Regions from separate parts of the Homo sapiens genome. Here all the other regions are reported to be linked to region 4. Evidence: microRNA targets listed by miRTarBase, many of them from high-throughput screens and not tested one by one. Region 4 holds a microRNA gene; each other region holds the end of a gene's coding sequence.
The links. Region 4 holds the annotated microRNA hsa-miR-6856-3p (UACAGCCCUGUGAUCUUUCCAG, at 2,490-2,511, opposite strand). A microRNA usually pairs through its seed, bases 2 to 8, with sites in the 3' UTR of a target mRNA and lowers its output. Matches are read on the target gene's strand: a 7mer-m8 pairs with bases 2 to 8, a 7mer-A1 pairs with bases 2 to 7 and ends in A, and an 8mer does both.

Region 1: miRTarBase lists SLC1A5 as a target of hsa-miR-6856-3p. Seed matches in the 3' UTR shown: 7mer-A1 at 4,082-4,088.
Region 2: the mRNA of KLHDC8B is a reported target of hsa-miR-6856-3p. Seed matches in the 3' UTR shown: 7mer-m8 at 2,639-2,645.
Region 3: miRTarBase lists KCTD21 as a target of hsa-miR-6856-3p. Seed matches in the 3' UTR shown: 7mer-m8 at 4,047-4,053.
Region 5: the mRNA of PARM1 is a reported target of hsa-miR-6856-3p. Seed matches in the 3' UTR shown: 7mer-A1 at 1,470-1,476.

Annotation. Positions count from the first base shown.
Region 1 is chr19:46,771,035-46,775,802 of GRCh38, forward strand. It overlaps SLC1A5 (solute carrier family 1 member 5), which reads right to left. Exons shown (of 8, transcript NM_005628.3): 8 at 3,849-4,713. The coding sequence ends at 4,476. Among named protein-coding and RNA genes, the nearest start is that of SLC1A5, 15 kb to the right of the region's middle.
Region 2 is chr3:49,172,913-49,179,072 of GRCh38, reverse strand. It overlaps KLHDC8B (kelch domain containing 8B), which reads right to left. Exons shown (of 6, transcript NM_173546.3): 2 at 5,928-6,160; 3 at 4,670-4,834; 4 at 4,107-4,331; 5 at 3,910-4,011; 6 at 2,587-3,468. The coding sequence ends at 3,272. CIMIP7 (ciliary microtubule inner protein 7) reads left to right here. Exons shown (of 4, transcript NM_001080528.3): 3 at 535-591; 4 at 1,021-1,439. The coding sequence ends at 1,437. Among named protein-coding and RNA genes, the nearest start is that of KLHDC8B, 4.4 kb to the right of the region's middle.
Region 3 is chr11:78,168,999-78,175,356 of GRCh38, reverse strand. It overlaps KCTD21 (potassium channel tetramerization domain containing 21), which reads left to right. Exons shown (of 2, transcript NM_001029859.3): 2 at 774-4,108. The coding sequence starts at 803. The coding sequence ends at 1,585. KCTD21-AS1 (KCTD21 antisense RNA 1) reads right to left here. Exons shown (of 3, transcript NR_102281.1): 3 at 1,380-1,537. Among named protein-coding and RNA genes, the nearest start is that of KCTD21, 16 kb to the left of the region's middle. RefSeq lists an enhancer at 1,017-1,518.
Region 4 is chr9:130,624,853-130,628,852 of GRCh38, reverse strand. MIR6856 (microRNA 6856) reads right to left here and starts at 2,556; the gene lies at 2,490-2,556. FUBP3 (far upstream element binding protein 3) reads right to left here. Exons shown (of 19, transcript NM_003934.2): 12 at 2,348-2,489.
Region 5 is chr4:75,045,791-75,049,790 of GRCh38, forward strand. It overlaps PARM1 (prostate androgen-regulated mucin-like protein 1), which reads left to right. Exons shown (of 4, transcript NM_015393.4): 4 at 373-4,000. The coding sequence ends at 457. All of the region lies in intron 1 of LOC107986289 (a long non-coding RNA gene), which reads right to left. Among named protein-coding and RNA genes, the nearest start is that of LINC02562, 37 kb to the right of the region's middle.

The DNA of each region.
Region 1 (4,768 bases), not on the chromosome of region 4:
AACTAAACAAACAAACAAACAAAAAGATACTAAAGATACCGTCTATAATTGGACCCAGGTCAGTGGTGCCTCCAGGCACCTGGCCAAAGTCAACACAGGGGGTTTGGAAGCGGAAGATAATATCAACAATGGCTAACACATTCAACGCACAAAACAGAATCCTGTTAGAACAGGTGAGAAGTAGGGCTGGGTGCAGTGGCTCAGACCTGTAATTCTAGCACTTTGGGAAGCCAAAGTGGGAGGATCACTTGAGTCCAGGAGTTTGAGACCAGTCTGGGCAACATAGTGAGACCCCGTCTCTACAAATAAAAATTAGCGGCCGGGCGTGGTGGCTCATGCCTGTAATCCCAGCACTTTGGGAGGCCAAAGCAGGCAGATCACCTGAGGTCGGGAGTTTGAGGCCAGCCTGACCAACATGGAGAAATCCTGTGTCTACTAAAAATACAAAATTAGCCTGGCATGGTGGCTCATGCCTGTAATTCCAGCTACTCAGGAGGGTGAGGCAGGAGAATCACTTGAACCCGGGAGGCAGAGGTTGCGGTGAGCCAAGATCGCGCCATTGCACTCCAGCCTGGGTGACAAGAGCAAAACTCCGTCTCAAAATAATGATAATAATAATAATAATATTTAGTTGGGTGTGGTGGTGTGCACCTGTAGTTCCAGCCACTCAGGATGCTGAGGCAGGAAAACTGCTAAGGTCCGGGAAGTTGAGGCTGCAGTAAGCCATGATAGCACCACTGCACTCAGCTTGAGCAACAGAGACCCTGTCTCAAAAGAACAGGTGAGATACAACAGCAGCATAGTACTTTTTTCTGGGGGGGGGGCGGTGAGACAGAGTCTCACTCTATCGCCCAGGCTGGAGTGCAGTGGCATGATTTCCAGTCACTGCAACCTCTGCCTCCCGGGTTCAAGCGATTCTCCTGCCTCAGCCTCCCAAGTAGCTAGGATTACAGGTGCCCACCACCACACCCAGCTAATTTTTGTATTTTTAGTAGAGATGAGGTTTCCCCATATGGGTCAGGCTGGTCTCGAACCCCTGACCTCAGGTGACCTACCCGCCTCAGTCTCCCAAAGTGCTCGGATTATAGGTGTGAGCCACCGCGCCCGGCCAGCATAGTCCATATTCTGAACTTACACAGGATGTAAAACAGTTGCAGAGTGGGTTTTTATCCAAATAGCTATTTTGGGGTTTCAAGGAAATAAAATAATTCTTGGGACAATTTGGATAGTGAGAGTTGGGATATGAAGGGATGCTGCATTCCTAAGTAGGTGGTCACAAAGGAAAATAAATTGTTACCATGCGTTGTGCAGATTTTTGTTGTTGTTGCTCTTGAGAGAGTCTTGCTCTGTTGCCCAGGTTCGAGTGCAGTGGCGCAATCTTGGCTCACTGCAACCTCCACTTCTTGGGTTCAAGCGATTCTCCTTGTGCAGATTTTTTTAAGAGATAGGGTCTCAATCTGTTGCTCAGGCTGGAGTGCAGTCACATAATCATAGCTCACTGCAGCCTTGAACCCTTGAGCTCAAGTGATTCTCTCGCCGCCTCAGCCTCTTGAGTAGTGGAAACTCCAGATACGTACCAACCACCACACCCAGATTGTAGAAAAAATTTAACTGGAAGGCACACAGGGCAAAATGCATGTGATTTGTGTACAGGTTCGTTAACTTTCCCAAATGCATCCATCTGTGGAATCATCACCCAAATCAAGGTAAGATATTTGCTTTATCATAGAAGGTTCTTTTGTGCTCCCTTCTGATCAATATGCTATTTTTTTTTTCTTTTGAGATGGAGTCTTGCTCTGTCACCCAGGCTGGAGTGCAGTGGCACAATCTCGGCTCACTGCAAGCTCCGCCCCCTGGGTTCACCACATTCTCCTGCCTCAGCCTCCAGAGTAGCTAGGATTACAGGCGCCCGCCACCATGCCCTGCTAATTTTTTGTATTTTTAGTAGAGATGGGGTTTCACCATATTAGCCAGGATGGTCTCGATCTCCTGACCTCATGATCCGCCCACCTCGGCCTCCCAAAGTGCTAGGATTACAGGCATGAAGCCACCGTGCCTGGCCCCATATTCATTCTCAAAGGTCACCACTGTTCTGATTTCCCACCATAGGCCAGTTGAGCATGTTCTAGCCCTCCTCTAAATGGAACTATACAGTATTTACCGTCTCTGGCTTCTTTATCTCAACAAATTATCTGAAATGCATTTCTGTTGCAGTGTAGGTCGATATCGCTCTTATTTATTGCTGAGTAATCTTCCATTGTATGAATGTACCAGTGTATCCAATTGATTTGTTCCCAAATTTTGGCAATGATGAGTACAGCAGCTAAACGTTTGTGGACACATTTTTGTAAAAGCAAAAGTTTTCACTTCTCTTGGGTAAATACCCAGGAGTGCAACTCCTAAGCTGCATAGTAAATAAATATATATTATATATATATATATTTTTTTTTTTTTTTGAGACAGAGTTTTGCTTTTGTCACCCAGACTGGAGTGCAATGGTGAGATCTTGGCTCACTGCAACATTCTGCCTCCTGGGTTCAAGCGATTCTCCTGCCTCAGCCTCCCAAGTAGCTGGGACTACAGGCATGTGCCACCACGCCCGGCTAATTTTTGTATTTTTAGTGGAGACGGGGTTTCACCATGTTGGCCAGGCTGGTCTCGAACTCCTGACCTCAGGTGATCCATCCACCTCGGCCTCCCAAAGTGTTGGGATTACAGGCGTGAGCCACTGCACCCAGCCTGTATTTTTTAACTTTATTAAGAAACTGCCCAGTTATTTTCCAAAACAACTCAGCCATCTACTAAGGGAGCACCAACCAAGAGATGAGGAGTCCTGTTGTATCCCATCCTCCCTTGGTCTTGTATTCAGCCATTCTACTGTGTATAGTGGTGTCTCATTGTGGTTTCCCGTGGTGTTTAAGAGACAGGGTCTGGCTGGGCGTGGTGGCTCACGCCTGTAATACCAGCACTTTGGGAGGCCAAGGTGGGTGGATCACTTGAGGCACCGGTCTCTACTAAAAATACAAAAATTAGCTGGGCATGGTGGCAGATACCTGTAGTCCCAGCTACTTCGGAGGCTGAGGCAGGAGAATCGCTTGAACCTGGGAGGCGGAGGTTGCAGTGAGCCAAGATCGTGCCACTGCACTGCACTCCAGCCCAGACAACAGAGCCAGACTCCGTTTCAAAAAAAAAAAAAAAAAAAAGCGACAGGGTCTCACTCTGTTGCCCAGGCTGGAGTGCAGTGGCATGATCATGGGTCACTGCATCCTTAAACTCCTGGGCTCAAGGAATCCTCCCCACCGCAGACTTCTGAGTAGCTGGGACTGCAGGTGTGCACCACTGCACCTGCCTAATTTTTTGTGTTGTTTTTGAGACAGAGTTTTGCTCTTTCACCCGGGCTAGAGTGCAGTGGTGCGATCTCGGCTCACTGCAACCTCTGCCTCCCGGGTTCAAGCAATTCTCCTACCTCAGCCTCCTGAGTAGCTGGGACTACAGGCGCCCACCACCATGTCTGGCTAATTTTTATATTTTTAGTAGAGACAGGGTTTCACCATGTTGGCCAGGCTGATCTTGAACTCCTGACCTCGTGATTCGCCCGCCTCGGCCTCCCAAAGTGCTGGGATTACAGGTGTGAGCCACCGTGCTCGGCCTTAATTTTTGTATTTTTTTGTAGAGACGATGTCTCACTATGTTGCCCAGGCTTGTCTTGAACTCCTGGCCTGGAGTGATCTCAAAGTGCTGGGATTACAGGTGTGAGCCCCCATGCCCAGCCCAGTGGTGTTTCTTGATGAGCAGATACTGTCATTGCAGTGGCCAGTGCTTTAAGTCAAATTCTCAAGAACACCTGATTAAATAGTTGACACTCAATTTTATTGCTAAAAAAAATGTCCTCTGGAGTGACAGCAGGTATTTGTCCTCAGCCTCTCCCCAGAGTCCCTGGGAGTGTTTCTGTTATTGTGGAGGGAATAGGGGATCTGGGGACAGGGTGGGACGTACCATGGGGACAGGAGGTCACAGAACACACACACACACACACACACACACACACACACACACGTGCACACACACATCCCCCCACAACTACAGCCGCCAAAATAACCAGCATGGTGTTGTAACATCCCCCCAGTGGGGGCTAGAATTCCCCATGGTGACCTGTGACCTGCTCCCTGAGACAGGGGAGGCCAGGCAGGTCACGGTGGGGACGCAGCAGAACATTATTTCTCCATCTTGCTGTTTTCTAGCCTTGAGTTGGGGACATGAGTGAGAACTGGGGGTTTTGAGGAGTAACCCTTGTGAACACATGTACTCCAGCAGCCAGGCATCCCAGATCTCCTGTCCTGGAGGGTGCTGGGGCCCCTGGCTCCCCAGAGTGTGCAGGCAGACCCCCAGAGCCCTAGCTCATCCATTTATCCATTCCTCATAATCCAGTGTCCAAAGAGCACCCCCAGCAGGGCAGGGAAGGTCCCTCCCGGGGTTTACATGACTGATTCCTTCTCAGAGGCGACCGTGGCATCCCCTGCGGGCCCCCGATAGTGTTTGAGGAGGGGGTTTCCTTCCTCAGTGGGGACTGGCAGCGGATCCAGGGGCAGCTCACTCTTCACTTGTATCAACTCAGGCTCTGTGCTTCTCGACTCCGTACGGTCCACGTAATTTTGGAGGAGTCCTGCCCCCAGAGCGTCACCTTCTACATTGAGGACGGTACAGGACCGGTCGCTAAAGGGGTAGAAATGACAGCAAAGTAAGCGGGAGGGGAGAGGGTGAGAGGGAA
Region 2 (6,160 bases), not on the chromosome of region 4:
AAAGCTCAGTCATATGTTTGGAGATGCTCAATTAGGCATTTACATGGAGATGTGGAGTAGGCAGTTGTCTACTGAACCCAAAGTTCAGGAGAAAGTTTGAGCTGGAGATAGAAATTCCAGTTTTCAGATGGCATTTAGAGCCAAGAGGCTGGGTATGTTGATGGGGGAGTAAGTGTGGATGCAGGGGAGGAGAGGACTAGAGTCCTGGGCAATCAAGAGTTAAGGCCCAACTTGAAACTTGGCCACTGCTCCCCTGATGGGAGGATGTTCTAGCAGATGCCTCCTTATTGAGGACCCTCCTCAATAAGGGTTCCACGGGCTTCTGCTTCAGGGCAAGTCCCAGGTTGAGATATCCCAGGACTGAAGTGTTGCTTTAATTAGTCTCTGCCCTCTGTCTGTTGGCAGTTTAGCAGCTTAGGGGCAGTGGCTCCTGGTGACTTCCCTCCATTAAGGACCCTGAGGCAGTGATCCAGGTAAGGGTGGGTAAATAAGCATCATTTTCCCCATTCACCTTCTTTCTCACTGTCTTTCAAGGAGCCGGCGCAGCGACACTTCTTCTCCAAGCACGACAACCGTACTTCCTTTGACAAAGTGAGTGCCGAAGACAGGAAGAATGGCAGGCAGTCCCCCAGCCTAAGCTGAAGTCTGGACAGAGCAGATGGTAGGGTGGAGGGGATGACACTGAGGGAGGGCTCCTTATGAAGGCAGAGGAGTGGCTGTCTTCCCCCACAAACTTTCTCCTCTGGGAAACAGCCTATTCCCCCAAACAGAGACATCTCTATGTTGGTTTCCTCTGCCAACTTGCCAGACAATATGCAAGTATCCTGTGGGCCACTAACTTTCTGGGTGCTTCACCTTAGAATGAAAGACATCACTGGGGAGGCAGGCCAAGGAGGCCAGGGTACAGGCCAAGACAGCCAGGCATAGGACAGGTATCACCAAGCAGACTTGGGGTTAGGAGGGGCCCAAGAAGGTGCTTGGTGCCAGGAATGTGGGCCAAGGGCCCATACCGTTGAGGAGGGTCCCTATTGCCTGCTGCAGGGAATCGGAAGGCGGAAGGACCTGGAGCGCCTGTGGCAGCGGCACACCTTCCTGCGCTGGGCACCCTGTGAGATAGAGTTGCGCCAGCAGGGGCCCCTGGAATCTTCTTACCAGGCTGATTTCAGGCCAGGCCCAGGACTCAGTGGCCTCCCCCAGCACCTCATCCACTTTGTGCAGGTCCAGCCTTCCCATACCAGGACCACCTACCAGCAGAACTTCTGCTGCCCATCCCAGGGTGGCCACTATGGCAGCTACAAGGTAGGGCCCCAGGCGCCGGTCACTGACGTACTGCCTGACCTCCCAGGGATCCCAAGACCCAAGCTGCTGCAGCACTACCTTCATGCTGGGGTCTCTGAGTGTCTAAACTGGTCCAGAGCATTAAACAAGGACAGCTGACACAGCAGCCTGTCTGTGCTTGCAGCCCACAATGGGATGTAGCCCAAGAGGCTGAAAGGTAGTAGTAGGCTGCCAGGTCCTGTGCCTGTCTCCCATGGCACTTGTGCCCATGGTGTGTTTCTGTGCTGGGCATGGGAGGTGCTGCTCTGGGATCCCTGCCACTAAGTGAGAAAGGGTAAGGCCTGCAGGAGGCTAAGAGTCCAGGAGGATTGCTATAGCCACATCAGGTGGGTTCCAGGGCCCCAAGTACTACTCTGTTCTTGCAGTAAACCCAGCTGTAGAGAGGAAGATTAGAGGGCAGTCCCCAGCCTAAGTTGAAGTCAGGACAGAGCAGGTGGCAGGGTGAAGGGGGTGACACTGAGGGAGGGCTCCTTATGAAGGCAGCGGAGTGACTAACTTCCCCACAACCTTTCTCCTCTGGGAAACAGCCCATTCCCCCAGAGACATCTCTGTGTTGGTTTCCTCTGCCAGCGTGCCAGACAATGTGCAAATATCCTGTGGGCCACTGACTTTCTAGGTGCTTCACCCTAGAATGAAAGGCATCACTGGGGAAGCAGGTCAAGTACTCAGTTTAGCTATGGGGAAAGCAGACCCCAGAGACCAGTACTAGTGGGCGACAAAGGCTGGAAGAAGGAAGAGTTGGCAGCTTTCTCAGGAGGCAGCTGCCTTTGAGGGGTTTGTTGGGTGGCCACACAGTCCTGTCCAAGAGACGGCTGCCCCACAGCTGAGACAGAAAGAGACTGCCCTGGGCCACAGAACCCACTGCACCACCCCTCCCTGTGGGGGTGAGCAGAGACCCTAAGGAGACACTCTGTAACTTGGATCTGGAGGTCTTCCTAACCTTGTGGTATTCTGTTGTTTTCTGAGCACTTCTCTGGTCATCTTATCCTGCCATCCTTTGGTGACATGTGACAGCCCTTCCTTACTGCCCTAGTGCTCTCTAATCCCCAGGACAGTAAGGAGGCGCTGTCATCACATGTTGCCAAAGAATAAGCTGAGGCTCAGATGGAACAGAAACACCAAATCACTTTGGGAACACCGACCAGATCCAAGAGGCTCCTTCTGGACCCTCATCCCTAGGGGCATTGAGACCCCCAAAGGAAGGCAGGGGCAGTGGAAACAAGGGAGTTCACACCAGGGTCCACACACTAGGTTTTAGCAGCACTTTTACTTCCACATCCAAACTCCCTGGGTCCTCACAACAGCCCTGTGAGGTAGGTAGGGTAGGAAGGTTTCAGAGATCCCCATTTATAGATGAGGATGCTGAGGCACAGAGAGGTGAAGTGACTTGTCCAAGGTCATACAACCAGCAGTGTAGAGGGCTCAAAGCCAGCATTCCTCCACTTGAACTCCTGCGCTCCGGCCCTCTGGCAGTTCCCACATCCTCTCTATTCTCTCTGTGTCCCCCACCCTCTCAACTCTCCTGGGTCTGCAGGGACCCTAAAGGCAGCCTGGCAGCTGAGATTTTTCAGGAATGGCAACTGGGGTAGGCCTGGTCAACTCCAGATAGGAACTGACCCTGAAGAGCATGAGGCCAGCTTTGCTTCTCCCCATTTCCCAGTTGGATGGAAGGCCTAGTAGGTCCCAGGGCAAGGATGGAGCTAGGCATGATTCATGAACGAATGGTGATAAAGGTAGGTGTAAGCATATGTGTGTCCTGCACTAAAGACAAAGGCTCCCCTAACCCAAGGCCCCAAGGCAGTGTTTCAAGTGCTCACCCCCATGCCTCTCTCATCCCACAGAGCCACAGTGAGTGTCCTCAGCAGCAAAAGGAGCCATAGAAATAGCTGCCTCTGGCAATGAGCTGCTCCAGTGGACAGCTCCCACCAAGCCTTCAGACCCCATCACGCAGACACAGTGCCTCCACGGCTTGACTGGGGCCCTGGGCCACACCCCCAATAACAAACAGCCGGGGCCCAGCCTGCAGACTAGAGCAGGAGCAGCGGGCAGTGGGCATGGCAGGCAATGCCTCCCAGCGCCGCCGTGCAAGGCTAAAGCTCTCCACAGAGCCCAAAGGACATGGCTGGTTTCCTGCAAGAAGGAGAGAGAAGGCTGTGAGAGGCACAGGCCGTAGGGACTCCAGGCCCTTCTGCTCCCTAAGCCCAGAGAATAGCCCAGTAGTTATCACCCCAGGATGAGCTATCAGGGCCTTGCTCCTCATTGCCTATGTTCATCATTTGTTCATTCATTTATGTTTCTATATGTTCTCTTGACTGTGCATACAGTGGTCATTTGTCCTGCTGCTGTCTCGTAGACCCTTGCTGGTGCTTGACAGAGCCCCCAGTCACTGAGGAACACCCTGAGTGCTGGGCCAGGCAGACCACATCCTGCCTACTTCATAGATAGGGAAAAGAGCTCACAAAGCCCTGACCCCTGGAGTGCCTGGAGATGGGCAGAAGGTGACACACATGCTGGGGGCTAGTCTTTCCTGTCTTGGGACTCCCTCCTCTCCCCAGCCCCATAGAGACTTACCAAGGCCCCCAATGGCCACAATGTGGCCCCCAAGGGACCCAACCACAAAGTCTGCCCTCTTATCCCTCATGCGCAGGCTGCGGGGCAATTTGGTCCAGGACCCTGCAGGAGAGGGGAGGTCAGATCTAGTCATGTACACACTATGCCCCTCCATCCCACAGAGAGCGGGAGGACAGCCCAGAACAGCCACTGCTCACCATGCTCCAGGTCAAACATCTCCACAGTGTTGACAAAGTGTGGGCGAGAGTAGAAGTTGTGGGGCCCAGGCTGCTGCAGGCCACCCAGGCTAAAGACGCTGCCTTCAGCCATGGCGCAGCCAGCAAAGGCCCGACGGCTGGGTAGGCTTGGATGCCGGGTCCATGTACGGGCCTCCAGATCAAAGGCTTCAAAAGCAGTCACCGGGAGCTTGCCCTGGCGGCCCCCTGTCAATGGAATTGGGGTACCTGGGAAGGAGCCCAGGAGGCTTGGTGGGCTCCTTGCTCACTAGGTTGCTAATCTGCCTGCCTCAGCCTCCCACATCCTGCTGTGTGCACACTTGCACATGAATCATCCACCCTACAGTCCCTCAGGTACTGGGGTTTGGTTTTCCAACCACAGCAAGACCACCAGGGGTCAGAGCCTCAGAGCAGGCATGGATCACCCCAACAAAGCTTCTCTTGTTTTGCCATCCTGGACTGAGCCTGATCCCTATCCCAGCCAACCTATGAGGATGAGGATTTCTAGACTCTGAGCCCCCTTCCCACATTCCCCAGGCCCTTACCCAGGACATAGATCTTGTTCCCGTGCAGGAAGGTGGAGGCCCCATAGCAGGGTGTGGGCATGGAGGGTAGCGAAAGCCAGCAGTCCCGACGGGGCTCATACACACGTACCTGGGCCTGGGGGGCCGTGTCAGGGCCCATTCCCCCCAGAGCATACACCATACCATCTGCATAGAAAAGAGTAGTTCAGATTGTACCTCAGCCTGCCAGGGTACCCCACCCTGACAGCTGCCCTGGTAAGTCCTGGGGGTGGCTGGAGACCCATGTGTTTATAGCATCCCTCCCCAGCAACAGACACTCTACTACCTGCCTGCAGTGGGGGCTGGGAGATCTGGGATTCCTACTCTGGCCAGGGCCCCTCCGAGTAAAGAGCAGGAGGCAGCCGATCTAATTATAATCCGACTCTGTCTCCCTGGAGATGCTATGGCAACAGAGTCTGGCATCCAAGCAGGGCTGGCCTGGGCTGGTGGTCAGACCTGGAGGCCACAAGGTGGGGACTCCCCTCGGGGAGGAAGATGGGGGGATGGCTTAAGCCAGGGGTAAGAAACATGGGGATCTGCTTAGCACAGAGCTCAGTCTGGGGAGGAGGACTGGGGACCAGCTGGAGTTGGAGATGGGGCTGGGAGAGGAATGGCTTGGGTCTGCTGGGTAAAGATACTGTCCACAAGCCTTCTGCCCCAGGATCCCTGCCAGCACCTCTGTGTGACACTCTTTCATTATAGTAGGTTCTTGCCCTCTGTTAAACCCTCAGAGTCAGCTACGACATGTCTGGGGGCCTTAGGGTAATGGGCCAGTCAGCTGGGGGCTTCCATGGCAACCATCCCAGATCAGCTTGGCCTTTGTCCATATCAGGCTCCCTGGCGTGTGGGAAGGGTTGGGGGTGGGGCAGGAAGTCTAAGCACAGGCTCTGAGCCAAGGCCCTACTCCTCTCCCCCACCCCAGACTATTTATAACCCTGGGAGTCATTAGGCCATCCCACCCCCATCTCTTAGAAATGAGGAGTGGGGCAGGAACATGGCTGGGGTCTCCCATCATCCTGGGATCGGCTTGGGCTCTGCCTCCCACCTTAGCCAGAAAAGGCAGTTAATAGAAGGCAGCAGCTCAAATCTAGGTTGGAAAGGATACAGGGGACAAGGCCACATCCTGGGCACCCATGTAAAAATTACAGCTCTTGTTCAGTCTCTGAGGGTAAGGGACTAAGTCAGGAAATAATAAAAGGTGTTAGGGTACCTGAAGTGCCTTCCTTGGGAGGCCACTCACCTCTCTCCACAGTTGCAACCCCCATGGCTGCTTGAGGGAGGGTGGCCCGACGCTCCCAGCGGCCCTCATCCATCAGGAAGGCCTCTACAGCAGCTACCGGGCTCTGGACCTCATCCACACCACCCACCACTAGCACCTGCTTGCCCAGAACTACCGCAGCTGCACCAGCCCGGGCAGTGGGCAGGGGTGCCAGTGCCAGCCATGTGTGCGAGGCCATGTCCAGTGTCTCAGCA
Region 3 (6,358 bases), not on the chromosome of region 4:
AGATGATACAACCTTTTTTTTTTTTTTTTTTTTGAGACAGAGTTTCACTCTTGTTGTCCAGGCTGGAGTGCAGTTGTTCAGTCCCGGCTCACTGCAACCTCCACCTCCTGAGTTCAAATGATTCTCCTGCCCCAGCCTCCTGAACAGCTGGGATTACAGGCACCCACCACCATGCCCAGCTAATTTTTGTATTTTTAGTAGAGATGGGGTTTCACCATGTTGGCCAGTCTGATCTTGAACTCCTGATCTCAGGTGATCTGCCCGCCTCGGCCTCCCTAAGTGCTGGGATTACAGGTGTGAGCCACCGCACCTGGCTGATACAACTATTATGTAAGCAAATATATGTATAAACACGTAGCATAGCTTTCAGTCCAGGCACGTTTTCCTTTCTTTCTTTAGACCAGTGGTTCTCTATTCTAACTGAACATTTAGAATCACTAAGGGAACTCTTTCAAAATACCAGGGCTGGGGCAGTATTCCAGACCAATTAAAATAGAATGTCGGCAGCAGAGGGGGGCGCGGGGGACCCAGGCTTTAGGGGTCCTTCCCTTTCTTTCCCTGTTTCCTTTTTCCTTTCCTTTTCCCTTTCTCCTTTCCCTCTCCCTAGTGAAGCTAATGTACTTTGCACAGTGTTAGCAATTATCACCCATTCATCAGGTATTAATTCATTTCGATCCCAAGGGCATAGGCTTGATGTACAATAAGGAGTTAAGGACTGTGAGTTCTCTGATAAGGTTTGGTTATAGTCATTTCTCACTTCTCACCCTCTCCAGGACTACTTCCAGCAACCCAGTCTCCTGCCATGTCCGACCCCATCACGCTGAACGTCGGGGGGAAGCTCTATACAACCTCACTGGCGACCCTGACCAGCTTCCCTGACTCCATGCTAGGCGCCATGTTCAGCGGGAAGATGCCCACCAAGAGGGACAGCCAGGGCAACTGCTTCATTGACCGTGACGGCAAAGTGTTCCGCTATATCCTCAACTTCCTGCGGACCTCCCACCTTGACCTGCCTGAGGACTTCCAGGAGATGGGGCTGCTCCGCAGGGAGGCCGACTTCTACCAGGTGCAGCCCCTGATTGAGGCCCTGCAGGAGAAGGAAGTGGAGCTCTCCAAGGCCGAGAAGAATGCCATGCTCAACATCACACTGAACCAGCGTGTGCAGACGGTCCACTTCACTGTGCGCGAGGCACCCCAGATCTACAGCCTCTCCTCTTCCAGCATGGAGGTCTTCAACGCCAACATCTTCAGCACCTCCTGCCTCTTCCTCAAGCTCCTTGGCTCTAAGCTCTTCTACTGCTCCAATGGCAATCTCTCCTCCATCACCAGCCACTTGCAGGACCCCAACCACCTGACTCTGGACTGGGTGGCCAATGTGGAGGGCCTGCCAGAGGAGGAGTACACCAAGCAGAACCTCAAGAGGCTCTGGGTGGTGCCCGCCAACAAGCAGATCAACAGCTTCCAGGTCTTCGTGGAAGAGGTACTGAAAATCGCTCTGAGCGATGGCTTCTGCATCGATTCTTCTCACCCACATGCTCTGGATTTTATGAACAATAAGATTATTCGATTAATACGGTACAGGTAAAAGGACCCCAACAACACTGGAGATGGGGAGTCCCAGGAAGCTCATGTCAGCCAGGTCTTGGAGGGCATCTCGCCAGTGGTGCGAGGCAGGGGACTATACTAATCTGTATTAATTGTGTAGCAGGACTTGATTCCCCCCATGATGAAGTCCACCTTTTGGAATCCAGTGTCCTCTGAACAGAACCACCTTTTTTCTTGCCATTTTGAGCTGCAGACAGGCGGTTTATTATGACAAGTGAAGAGTCAGCTGATGTGTACTAAAGGAGGCCATAGGAGGATTTTCCAGCCAGGACAAAAGAGCAGCAGTTTTCTCCTGGGCTCCATCTCTCTGTACCGCTAGCCAGTGCCGCATTTATCCATCTGTAAGAAGGCCCTGGTGGAGAGGATGGGATGAGAACAAGAGGCTACCTCCAGTTAACCAGGACATAAAGTCCCCAGCGGTTCCTGTCACACCTGCTCCTCCCTCCCCAGGGTGCATCCATGATCGTGGATGTTTGCCCAGGGGTGACCATGTTTGGCTGGCTTGGAATGCTGTGCATTCTCAGAGCTCTGTTAGTGTCCCCTCTTGGGGGTCAGAGATGAGGTGTGGCAGGGTCTAGAGGAATGAGTGTCCAGGCAGAGTTCAGAAGGTAGGAATGTCCCTCTTGATAGGGCTGAATCAAGGGATTCCTGGCTTTAGAAAGGGTCTGCTATCTTTGCAAAAATGTGCAAGTATCTGTAGCCAGTGTAATGAAATCACTTCCAAATCCAGCCTGTTACCTGACTTTTGTCATTGTTTTCCCAAAAATTTGAGGTATCATTGAAACAGGTCATTTTAAACAAATCTATTACGGATTCTCAGGGTTGGAAATAATTCGATGATTGCTTAGTCCTCCCCCACCCCTAGAACACCCCAGCACATCTGAAGATGAGCGCCTCTCCCTGGGTACCTGCAAGTGATCACCTTGGCCTGCTTGCATACCTTGGCTGATAGGAAGCGCGCCATCCCCAAGGCAGCTCCTGCTGTGGTTGGACAGTGCTGACTGTTAGACAGTTCTTCCCTATATTGAGCCAAAATCTGTCCTGCCACTTGCTGGATCTTGGTTGCAGACCTTCCCATTCACCCAGTTATATATCTTTGCTTTCAAAATAGTCACCTTGAGAGACCAGACATTTTTCTGAAAACATCATTACTCAGAATTCAGATTCCCCTCTGGGATCTGTCTTCAGAATCAAAGTTAGCTCTTTTCTATCCCCTGTAAGTCAGTCCCCTTTTGTTGTAGCTTCACCTCGTTTGTGACCCCCACTTCACCCACCTTCCCCACCATCTGTGGCTCCATATACCTTTCGACCATTTTCTGCTGGAAGAGGAAGATTCACGGCCCCTGAGGAGATCCAGAGGAAAGAGACGGTCTCCAAGGGTGCTGTGCAGCAAGGAGCCCAGGAGTGGTATGAACCGTAACAGTGCCCTTAGAGTAAATGTGCGGCCCCTAAGACCCTGCCCTCAGGAAGGCGGCCTTCCCCTGCAGTCCTGTGTCCCACCCCTGGGTCTCTGTAGGGTGCCATCCAGGGCAAGCAACCCAAGCACTGCTTCCCACCGGGTGATGAGCCATGCAGGCCTCCAAACTGCACGTCATGATTCATCCCTAAAGTGAGTTTGGCCTTGAGAGTCCCCAGGGTCCTCCCCCACTGGGCAGGGGTCCTCAAAGCCAAGGAAGCCTGGTGACACAGGCACCCATGGGAGGTGGGCCCAGAAAGGGGCTTCCCATAGATAGGCCCTGTGAGTAGGGAGCTTGTACACTGGGCCATGGGCAGCGCCAGTTCCCTTGAGCAGTAAAGGCCCTTTTCCCCCTACGGTGGGACCCAGGAGTCTCTCTGACAGCTTTTCTGCCAGGCACAGTGGCTCATGCCTGTAATCCCAACACTCTGGGAGGCCGAGGCGGGAAGATCACTTGAGGTCAGGAGTTCAAGACCAGCCTGGCCAACATGGTGAAACGTCGTCTCTGCTAAAAATACAAAAATTAGCTGGGTGTGGTGACAGGCGCCTATAACCCCAGCTATTTGGGAGGCTGAGGCAGTAGAATCGCTTGAACCCAGATAGCAGAGGTTGCAGTGAGCTGAGAGTGTGCCATTGCAGAGAGACTCCATCCCAAAAAAAGACAGCTGTCCCAGGCCAAGGGTACTTGGGAGAGCCCCTCATGGAGAACCTAGTTTAGACCAAGTAGCAGAAGCTGTGGTCATAACAAAACAATTTGAGGAAGAAATCTTACAAATCACCACTGCCCTTTCTCCTTTTCCATAAAACTGTCCATCTTTTCGGTGCTCCCTAATCCAAGCAGCTTGACTTTAGAGAAGTTGCAGAAGCAGTGAAGCCACTAACATGCTGTGTGACTTTATGCAAGTCACTCACCTCACTGAGCCACCTCCATTTCTTCATCTGTGAAATAGGCATAACAGTAATACATAACCCTACCTACCTCACAGGGCTGTTGTGAGGATCAAATGAAATAATGTAACGTGAGAATACAGTATAAATGATAAAGGATTGTTATTCTTTTGTGTCTGCTTGTAACGGGGAAAAACACTGGTCTTGAGTCACAGTGACTTGGGTTTGAATCCAGAGCTCCAAGCCTCTGTAACCTTGGACAAGTCATTGAACTTCTCTGATTTGTTTGCTCATCAGGTAACAACCCCTTCCTCCCGGGGTTATGCAACTTAAACGAGTTGGTGTCTGTGAAAATCCTGAGCTGGGCCTGGCACCCAAGAGCTCAGTGCTCTTGCAGGAGGTAGTCATGGTGGACTCTGGTGGGGGACTAGGAGTCCCAGGAGAGTGGAGTTTAACAAGCCCTTACAGAGCATTTGCTGCGTGGGCCCTGAGGATGTGAACAGCCACGAGTAAGCTAAGTTCAGCCTGGAGAAAGTTTAGAGCTTCACACAACGTGCTTTGGGAACTCAGGGAAAGGGCTCAGTTCTCAGAAGGAGCCTTGTGGATGGCCAAGGTGGGCCTCTGAGGGTAGGTCAGGCTTGACAGAATAAGCAAGAGAGTGCCGTGGGCACAGGGAACAGCAAGAGCAGAGCTGGCAACCAGGCAGGAAGGGCAAGCAAGGGAGGGTATGCGTTCACACCACAGCTGCACAAGGGGAAGGGGGGCACGCAGTGCATCTCGTTGCCTGCGTCCAGGTTAGGTGAACTCAGCCTTCTGCTTGGCAAAAGCATGAGAAAGACGGAGAACAAACGTTCAGCAGTGATGGCAGCACCATCGACAGACGGGTGAGTCTGAGTGCGAACTGTGAGCAGGGATGTGCTGCTTGTGAGCCCTTCATTGCCCTGGGTGAGACCTTGTGGTGATCTCACCTGGACCCAGTTTAGCCTTTTATCCCGCCAAGGGCTCCATCCCAGCTGAAGGAGCAACGCCGGGAACACAACACTCGTCAGCTCTCAGTTCCTGCCCTAGGTGTGGTCCCCTGCATGCAGAGGGACAGAATGGGTGCTTGAGGGAACCCTAAGCACCCACCTTGGTGTGACTCCTTCATGAGGCCCACCACCAAACAGGGACCCTGCATGCTTGAAGGCCAGCAGCAGGCACCACTCTGACCTCATGCCCTCAGCACCTCCAAAAGCCCTCCACCCTCTTAAGAAGGGCCTAGCCTCATGACCCTGGTCTGCCTTTGGGCCAGATCTCCCTGTGCAGGGGTGGCCAAGGTCCCCACTTGCCCACACCTCAGAATTTGCAGCCTAGGACGCAGCCACTCTTTTGTAAACTGCACCCTAAATCACACAGCATTTGTGTAACCACCCATTCACCCCAAACTTCCAGCTTCCTTTTACAAATTACTCTTAAAACAGTCTGACTTTGGGAGGCCGAGGTGCGCGGATCACGAGGTCAAGAGATCAAGACCATCCTAGCAAACATGGTGAAACCCCGTCTCTACTAAAAATACAAAAATTAGGCATGGTGGCACATGCCTGTAGTCCCAGCAACTTGGGAGGCTGAGATAGGAGAATAGCTTGAACCTGGGAGGCGGAGGTTGCCGTGAGCCCAGATTGCACCACTGCACTTCAGCCTGGCAACAGAGTGAGACTCCGTCTCAAAAAAACAAACAACAACAACAACAAAATAGTCATCAGGCTAGGTGTAGTCGCTCAGACCTGTAATCCCAGCATTTTGGGAGGCCAGGGTAGGCGGATCACTTTAGGTCAGGAGTTCGAGACCAGCCTGATGAACATAGTGAAACCCTGTCTCTACTAAAAATACAAAAATAAGCCAGGCATAGGGGTGCGTGCCTGTAATCCCAGCTACTCGGGAGGCTGAGGTACAAGAATTGCTTGAACCTAGGAAGCAGAGATTGCAGTGAGTCAAGATCACACCACTTCACTCCAGCCTGGGCGACAGAGCAAGAATGTCTAAAGAAAATAATCTTTAAAAAAAATCCGTCTGTCATCAGTGGGGGCTTAGCCAAGGTCAGTCCTGGGCCAATTTCTTGGCCCAAGAAATTTCAGCCTATCCCTTTCCTGAATTGCAGTCTCTCCAAACTGACTGCCTACGTCTGCCTGTGTCCCAGGGGGCTCTGGGCTGATGGGGGTGGCTGGCTGGGAAACGTGGCCTGTGATCAGCTCCAGGAGCAAAACAACCCTGATAACAGGCCCATCAAAGGGAGGGACGAGAGTCTGGCAGCTCTGTCTGCCCAGACAGCCTGGTGACCTCAGTCTCCTTCAGAACCTTCGGGACAGTGTGGCACCAACCGAGCTGTGGAAACAGTCCAGTGACACACTCGCCCCAGTCTGGGGCACAGGG
Region 4 (4,000 bases):
GGTTGCAGTGAGCCATGATCACGCCACTGCACTCCAGCCTGGGCAACAAAAGCGAAACTCCATCTCAAAAAAATAAAAAAAAATAAAAAAGAATAGAAACCAAAATGGAGACCATTTCCACAGGCACACGTAAGACTCGAGGGAACCCTACCAGCCTCCAACCAGATCCACTTGGTCTGGAGGCAAAAGCACAAGTACACGAGTGTCTGCGACTGAGAATCCTGCAGTCCCCAGACAGCCGAGGCCCCGGCCCTCCCCACTGGGCCCCTCATCCCCAGGCCTTGGGAACATGCTAATAAGGTGAGGAGGCGCCACAAAACCTCGTGGGGCCAGAAGGAGTTAATTTAAGTTCATCTTCCTTCAAAATGAGGTCACTAGCTTGGCACATGGTGGCTGTCTATAGACTCATTCAGCAGCCCGCTCCATTCTTCTACCTGATGGGGGGCAGAAGTGCCCCACCAGTGGCCCCCTGGCTGGACGTGAAATCGTAAAGCAATTAATCAAACCTGCTAAAAGGCCTGGCTGACAAGAGCAGGCTGGCTGAGCTATCTGTCAATGTTGCTGTGTTTATCATGGAAATCCAGCAGGGGCCAGGGAGGCTCTGTGTCTGTCCAGGCCAGAGGCCAAGGAAAGATGGGCCTGGCTGCGTGGGGCTCCTCTCTCCCTTGCCCAGGCGCCCATCTCAAGGAAAAGAGATGTCTCACATGGGCCCTGAGGGGTAGGGGGTGTGTGTGTGTGTGTGTGTGTGCGCGTGCGTGCGTGCGTGCGTGTGTTTAGTGCGGTGTGTGTGTGACATAGAAAGACCCTCCCATATCCGAGACACTAATTAGGCTTCTTTAGGCTGCTATTCAAGCATGGGACACAGACCAGTTACTGCTTCGTTCTCATCACTGTTTTCTAGGAATCACTCAGGATGACTTTGTGGAGGACCAACTACGAGGGGCTGCTCTGTGAGCACCAAGGGCTCACTATGAGAACCTGTCATGGTGAGGCAACAATGCTCAGTCAGGGTTTAGAGACACAAGCAAATGAAAACTTCGCCGACAAAATAGTTTGCAAAAGGCCAAGAAATCTAGATCTAGCTAATCGTCAACCTACAGGCATCAACTAGCTGCAGTCTCACAGCGGTCAGGCTGACGGCCTGGGTAGTGTGGGACTTCTGGCAGCATCTGGTGCAGCCTGCAATATCCCCAAACACTCACCAGCCCGCACACCTGCCGGCAAATGAACACGAACCCATACCAACTCTGAGTGGTTCAGTCTAAAAGACAACACGGTTTCTTGCATTTTGCAAGAGCATAAGCCCACAGTGTCTGTGAGCAGGGACGAGGGCAGCTCCTGGGAGGTGAGTGTCGGGGGGCTCCCACCTGCCCAGCTCTGGAGGTCTCTGCTGGTGAAGCATCCCCAAGTCCTGCCTATCCAATACGAGCGCCCCTCAAGCAGCTAAGGGGTATTTGGTGATCAAAGAAATTTGAGAAACTCTGGAGAGACGACTGTTTTCTCCACATGCTGTCAAATACCTAATGAAGGCAAATACGAAACCCAGTGACAACGGGAGTCCCCCGCTGGCAGCGAGGCCTGGCTCAGAGCCCCACGGAAGCCGAGCCCTGCTGCTACACTGGGAAGGCCCCACAGCCTCGGCCCTGGTCTCAGTAGCCTTTCTGGGTCCCAGGGCTAGCCAAGATGAACTGCTGCCAATGGCTGAGAAATGTGGCTGCTCTCTCCTGGTTCTCAGTGAAGGACAGGAAGGAGCTACAGTAGCCATGAATGAGGGTTTCTTCCTAATGTTCTCCAAAATGCCCAGAAAAAACTAACACATCAATGTTTATTTCCCTCCACAGAGAGTCCGTGACTCACGGTAAATATGCAGAAAGGATAAAAACCATTTTCACATGTTACGCGGATCAAGACCAAATACTCAAACCTGGTAAGGGAAACAAGTGACACACTGTCGAGAAGGAATTTTCACTGAGGATACTGTCTCAACCGTCCCTCTAAGTTCCTTGGAGGTGAGTTAATTACCAATCAGTCGATTGACAAATGCCCCCCATCTTGCGCAAGGTATCTTTTCACCAAGCTAAGCTGCCCTCAACAGGCAGGGAGTTTTACTGCTGTCTCTTCATACTCACCAGAAATAATACACTTTGCTCCTCACAACAGGCCCGTCAGCAGCCTCAGAGAACCATGCCAAGCAGGGTTTCGGCAGAAGGTGGCTACTGCCTCCAGACCGGGCAGCCCCAGCCTGCAGCAGCAAAGGGACCTCACCAAAGGTTCTGGAGGTCCCGTGACCTGCCTTCCCTCAAGCCAAACAGCTGAGGGGGGATGTGAAACCCCAGCTGCCTCTTACCTTTGCCTATGACGAGGCCACACTTATCGGCTGGCACCGTGTATGTTATCTCCTGGACGCCACCAGGGGCTCCCACGCTCCAGTCGCCACGGCCACGACCTCTTCCTCTGGCTGCTGCCAGGCCTCCAAAGCCGTCTCTTTCCTGGAAAGATCACAGGGCTGTAGCGACCTCTGCCACTGCCACAGCACCACTGCTCCTCTCTTTTCCAGGGAGGAGGTTAAGTGACAGGATGTAATCAATGCCACCCATCAGAACCTAGCACCTTTCCACACTTCCCATTCTGAAGGGCTCTTTCAAGCCAGAATTAACACCGATCACAGGTGTATCTGGGGAGGACCTGTGCAGACGAACACACGTGGTTACATAAACAGCTCAAATGTATCCAACAGAAATAGGCAGACACAAACTCCAAGGCTGAAGCCCAGCGGCCTTTCTCCCTGGAGCTTTCCTCACTGGGCCCCGATCTACAGGCATCAAGAACTGCTTTCTCCCTTGCAGCTGAGGCCCCTCTTTCCTGCGGCGGACACATACTGGGCCTATGGGAAGTCAGATATGCACAGCCTGCTGACCCTCCCCAACCAGGCACTGCTATGAGTCACAACACCTGGCACTCCAGTCAGCAAGAAGGATAAACGGATTTTACTCAGTTTTAGAAAACTTCTTGGCTGTTGTGCCCCCAAGCAGCAGCAGCAGTAACAGGTTCAAGAGTGACCATTCAGGGATACTTCAGAAGGGAGGAACAGAGGGAACCTGCCAAGGCCTCCTCCCCATGTGGGGCTGGAGAAGTCTCTGAGGCATTCTCCCACTGTTCACCCAGCAGAGAGAAAAACCTAAATCTAACAGCGGACAGAGGAAGAGCCCTTTCATTGAGACAGCAGCAAGTCTCATTCCAGCCGCTGTCCGCGGAGTCATTTTGGAGCTGCAGTATTTAAACTCTCTTAAATGTGGAGGGTGAACCTGGTCAAGCTAAGAGCTATTTCATGGAAGGGAGAAGCTGCACAGACTTTTCAACACATGAAGAAATGTTGGGCAAAACCTGCTCATGTTGATTAAGAGTAAAGTGAACGTTTACCCAGAATCTAAACCAGCAGAAAGCTGAGACAATTGGAGTGCTTTTCCCCCGCACTCTGCTCTTATGAGACAACTGCCAAGTAAACAAGGCAATTTTAGAATGGATGTTCACACACGCACAGGAGCGCACAGTCAACTTTCTGGGTATGCCACAGATCTCGAAGAAAAGGTTTTCTCCCAAACATCTCGCAGCCTCTGCAGTGCAAGGTTCATAAACTTTTTTTGAGACAGAGTTTTGCTCTTGTTGCCCAGGCGGGAATGCAATGGCAGGATCCTGGCTCACTGCAACCTCCGCTTCCTGGGTTTAAGCAATTCTCCTGCCTCAGCCTCCTGAGTAGCTGAAACTATAGGCATGCGCCACCACGCCCGGCTAATTTTGTATTTTTAGTAGGGACGGGTCTCACCATGTTGGTCTTGAACTCCTGACCTCAGGTGATCCACCTGCCTTGGCATCCCAAAGTGCTAGGATTACAGGCGTGAGCCACCACGTCCAGCTAATTTTGTATTTTCAGCAGAGACAGGGTTTCACCATGTTGGTCAGGCTGGTCTCGAACTCCTGACCTCAGGTGATCCGCTTGCCT
Region 5 (4,000 bases), not on the chromosome of region 4:
GAAAATTAAGCCCAGAACCTAAGTCAGAATGTTAGGAATGCAAGCTTCCCTTTCCCATCTCTTCTTATTAAATTACTATGGAAATGGGGCCTCCTCTTCCTTCCCCAGCACTTGGGATCCAGAAGACAACAAGGACTCAGATGATGCCAACAGAACATGCCAGTCAGGATCCTAGCAGGAAGAGTTGTCATTGACAGGGTGTTTGGTAGACCGGGGCCTCCACGGTGGGTGGGTCTGCTGTCCTAGTGAGAGCGTCACAACTTTCCCTCTCCCTGGCCCCATAAGCATCCCCAGTTCAGTGCAGGGCATTACGCTGTCCTCAGATGGGCAACTTTTCCAAGTAATCACAACCCTCTTCTGTTTCTCCACCAGGCATTCCTCCTATGGAAGACTTTTGGACGACCATGACTACGGGTCCTGGGGAAACTACAACAACCCTCTGTACGATGACTCCTAACAATGGAATATGGCCTGGGATGAGGATTAACTGTTCTTTATTTATAAGTGCTTATCCAGTAGAATTAATAAGTACCTGATGCGCATTGAACGACAATCTTAAGCCCTGTTTTGTTGGTATGGTTGTTTTTGTTTTCCTCCCTCTCCTCTGGCTGCTACAACTTCCCCTTTCTGGTACAAGAAGAACCATTCTTTAAAGGTGAGTGGAGGCTGATTTGCAGCTGAAGTGGGCCAGCCTTGCACCAGCCAGGCCAGACCACCATGGTGAAGGCTTCTTTCCCCACTGCAGGACCCACTTTGAGAAGGACCGAGGAGGAGGATTTGGGTTGTTTTGTTAGGGGTTACTTTCAGGGGAACATTTCATTTGTGTTATTTCTTAAACTTCTATTTAGGAAATTACATTAAGTATTAATGAGGGGAAAGGAAATGAGCTCTACGAGGATTTCACCCTGCATGGGAGAGAGCAGGGTTTTCTCAGATTCCTTTTTAATCTCTATTTATCTGGTTGTTTCTGACAGGATGCTGCCTGCTTGGCTCTACAAGCTGGAAAGCAGCTTCTTAGCTGCCTAATTAATGAAAGATGAAAATAGGAAGTGCCCTGGAGGGGGCCAGCAGGTCACGGGGCAGAATCTCTCAGGTTGCTGTGGGATCTCAGTGTGCCCCTACCTGTTCTCCCCTCCAGGCCACCTGTCTCTGTAAAGGATGTCTGCTCTGTTCAAAAGGCAGCTGGGATCCCAGCCCACAAGTGATCAGCAGAGTTGCATTTCCAAAGAAAAAGGCTATGAGATGAGCTGAGTTATAGAGAGAAAGGGAGAGGCATGTACGGTGTGGGGAAGTGGAAGAGAAGCTGGCGGGGGAGAAGGAGGCTAACCTGCACTGAGTACTTCATTAGGACAAGTGAGAATCAGCTATTGATAATGGCCAGAGATATCCACAGCTTGGAGGAGCCCAGAGACCGTTTGCTTTATACCCACACAGCAACTGGTCCACTGCTTTACTGTCTGTTGGATAATGGCTGTAAAATGTTTAAAAACAAAACAAAACAAAAAAGAGGCACTAGTCTATCTGCAATTACTCAACGAGGCATTTTCATAGGAAACAGACTATGATTAATCCATTTATTCTTCCCACACACTTACCTTACTAAGTCTTTGCTTTAATAAATGAGCAACCCTGGGTATAGTCTTAAAATTCTGCACAATAAATTTTGAGAAAGAATTGTTCCTCTTTGTAGGTATCTGTGTATTGCAATCATTCTCAACCAGGAGGTGATTTTGCCCCCTGACTCCACCCCAGGGACATTCAAAAATGTCTGGTGACAGTTTTCATTGTCATGACTTGGGGGTGCTACTAGAAGCCAGGAATGCTGCCAAACATTCTACCATGCACAGCACAACCTACAACAGCAAAGAATCATCCACCCCAAAATATCAGTAGTGCCGAGATTGAGAAACCCTGATTTATCACAATGCCCACTGTGACAGAACAAGACACTCACAGATTAGTGATACGTTTTATTTTTAACAAAATGAAATGATGTGTTAAGTTTTTATTTCCAAAGTGTTTAGTTTATTGGCTGATGGGTTGTTCTTGGTATGCATGGTGACCTTTTTATTTCTGTGTGCTTCCTAGAGAGCTTTATTTCATGGCGACAACTCTGTCTTCTTGTAACAGCTGATATTAGCAAGCAGCATCTTATGTCCTGATTTCATATAGTAGAAAACAAACATTGGGTCCGACTTCAAAATGTGTTGTATTGTCCTACAGTGTCATAAAGAACCTGAAAATGAACTTTTGTTTCTAAAGTTGGACCTTGCTGCCATGACTGTTTAGTTTACAGAAACTTGACCCCGGCTCATCCTGTCTCTGGCTGTGGCCCGGCAAAGCACTGAAAACCCCTCTGGTCTCAGAGACAGTAGGGGCAGTGCCACTTTCTACAACCTGCCAACCCACACACTGGAGTAATTCTGAAAAAAATTATTCCTAAACTCTCTAAGTGTGGACGGAGAATGAGCAAGCCCCAGAAGTATTTTACAACCAGAGTGGGTAATGAGGAGGGGGCTTACTGGAATCGTCATATCTCTGAATATTGAAAACAACAACTAAAAAAGTGGACCTTCTCAGAAAAAAAGGGCAGCAAATGACCAAGGGCGCCCCTTCTGGCCGTGCTTGGCTTGAGTAACTGTCTCTCTTTCCCCACCCCCATCACAGGGCTTTCAGTTTGGCAAAGGAAAAGCAGATAAAAACAGAACATTCCATATGTTTCTTTCTCCATCGGCCAAAAACATTTTGACACAATGTTTGTGAAACACCTTTGGAGAGGTGCACTTCTGAATGCTGCCTCTGCCGTAAATCCTGGGGCAAGGGATCAGCCTCTTCCCAGGAACCATCGCCTTCTATAAACCGTGAACTCAAGCAGGCATTTTTTTTTTCTTACCGAAAGGCTGCTATTGTGCAAGGGCACATAATGGGTCTGTTGCTCTTATTGGCTTCCAAATGTGCATGGCAAAGAGAGAGATGTGGGCCTAGAGCAGATATATTCAGCAAGGTGACAGCTTCCCATAACAATTCTAACACTTCTTATCTTATGTGAGAATAAAATATTTAAGGGTTGAACCTTATTTTGCCAAATGTATCTTTTCTGCTTTTGAATTGGGCAGAAGATTTTAGCAACTATATTCTACAAATGTTACTTATAACACACACACACACATCTGAAATATATGCCGAAAATTGACGTCTTTGACCTCAGGGAGAGCACCTGTCCAGGTCTGCCTAAAGGAAATGGCTCCAGTGGGTCTAAACAACCACATCCTATCCATGGATAGGTCTAGTCATAACACTTTAGAGAGAATGTCAGAGCAGGAGGGAGGCAAGCCGCCTCTTCTCGGCCATCGACTGCAGATGATGAAAGAGCGGGATTCAACTTTGTTTTCTTTTCCTGTGGCCCCAGTGAAACCTCCTGCCCTCCCTGCACGTCTGTGTCTTCATTTCTAAAATGGGGGTGATGCTTTCATATTGACCTCACCCCATACTACCTCACAGATGTGTTGTGAGGATTAATAAAATTATGTCTATGGTATTTTCAGTTTCTGGAGAAAAATACTTATAGACAGTTTAACTATTACATAGATATATAAGTGATCTCAGTTTCTTGTTTGCTGTGATACTAATGTGTTGTTTTAACTTATTCCATAAAATGACAGTTGTGTCCTAGCCACATCAGACAGCTATCTAAGCTCTGGACTACCCCTTTGTGCAGCTGAATCACTGCAGGGTTGACCATGCCTGGTGCCACAGCCATGGTTTCCATTTCTAGATGAAAGGATGGCCTAGGACATAGGTCTCAAAGACTCTTGGATCAGAATCAGGAGATTAGGGAAAACAGGATGGATACCTGAGCACTAACAGCAGTAGACGTAGACCTCTGTCCTTTACCATCTGAGGTCTTCTGGATTCTTTGTGGGGTTAATTTTGATTTGATGTCATCTGTTTGCCCTTCATCTTGCTTGCAAGTGTGCATGGTTCAATCCCTCACATCCAG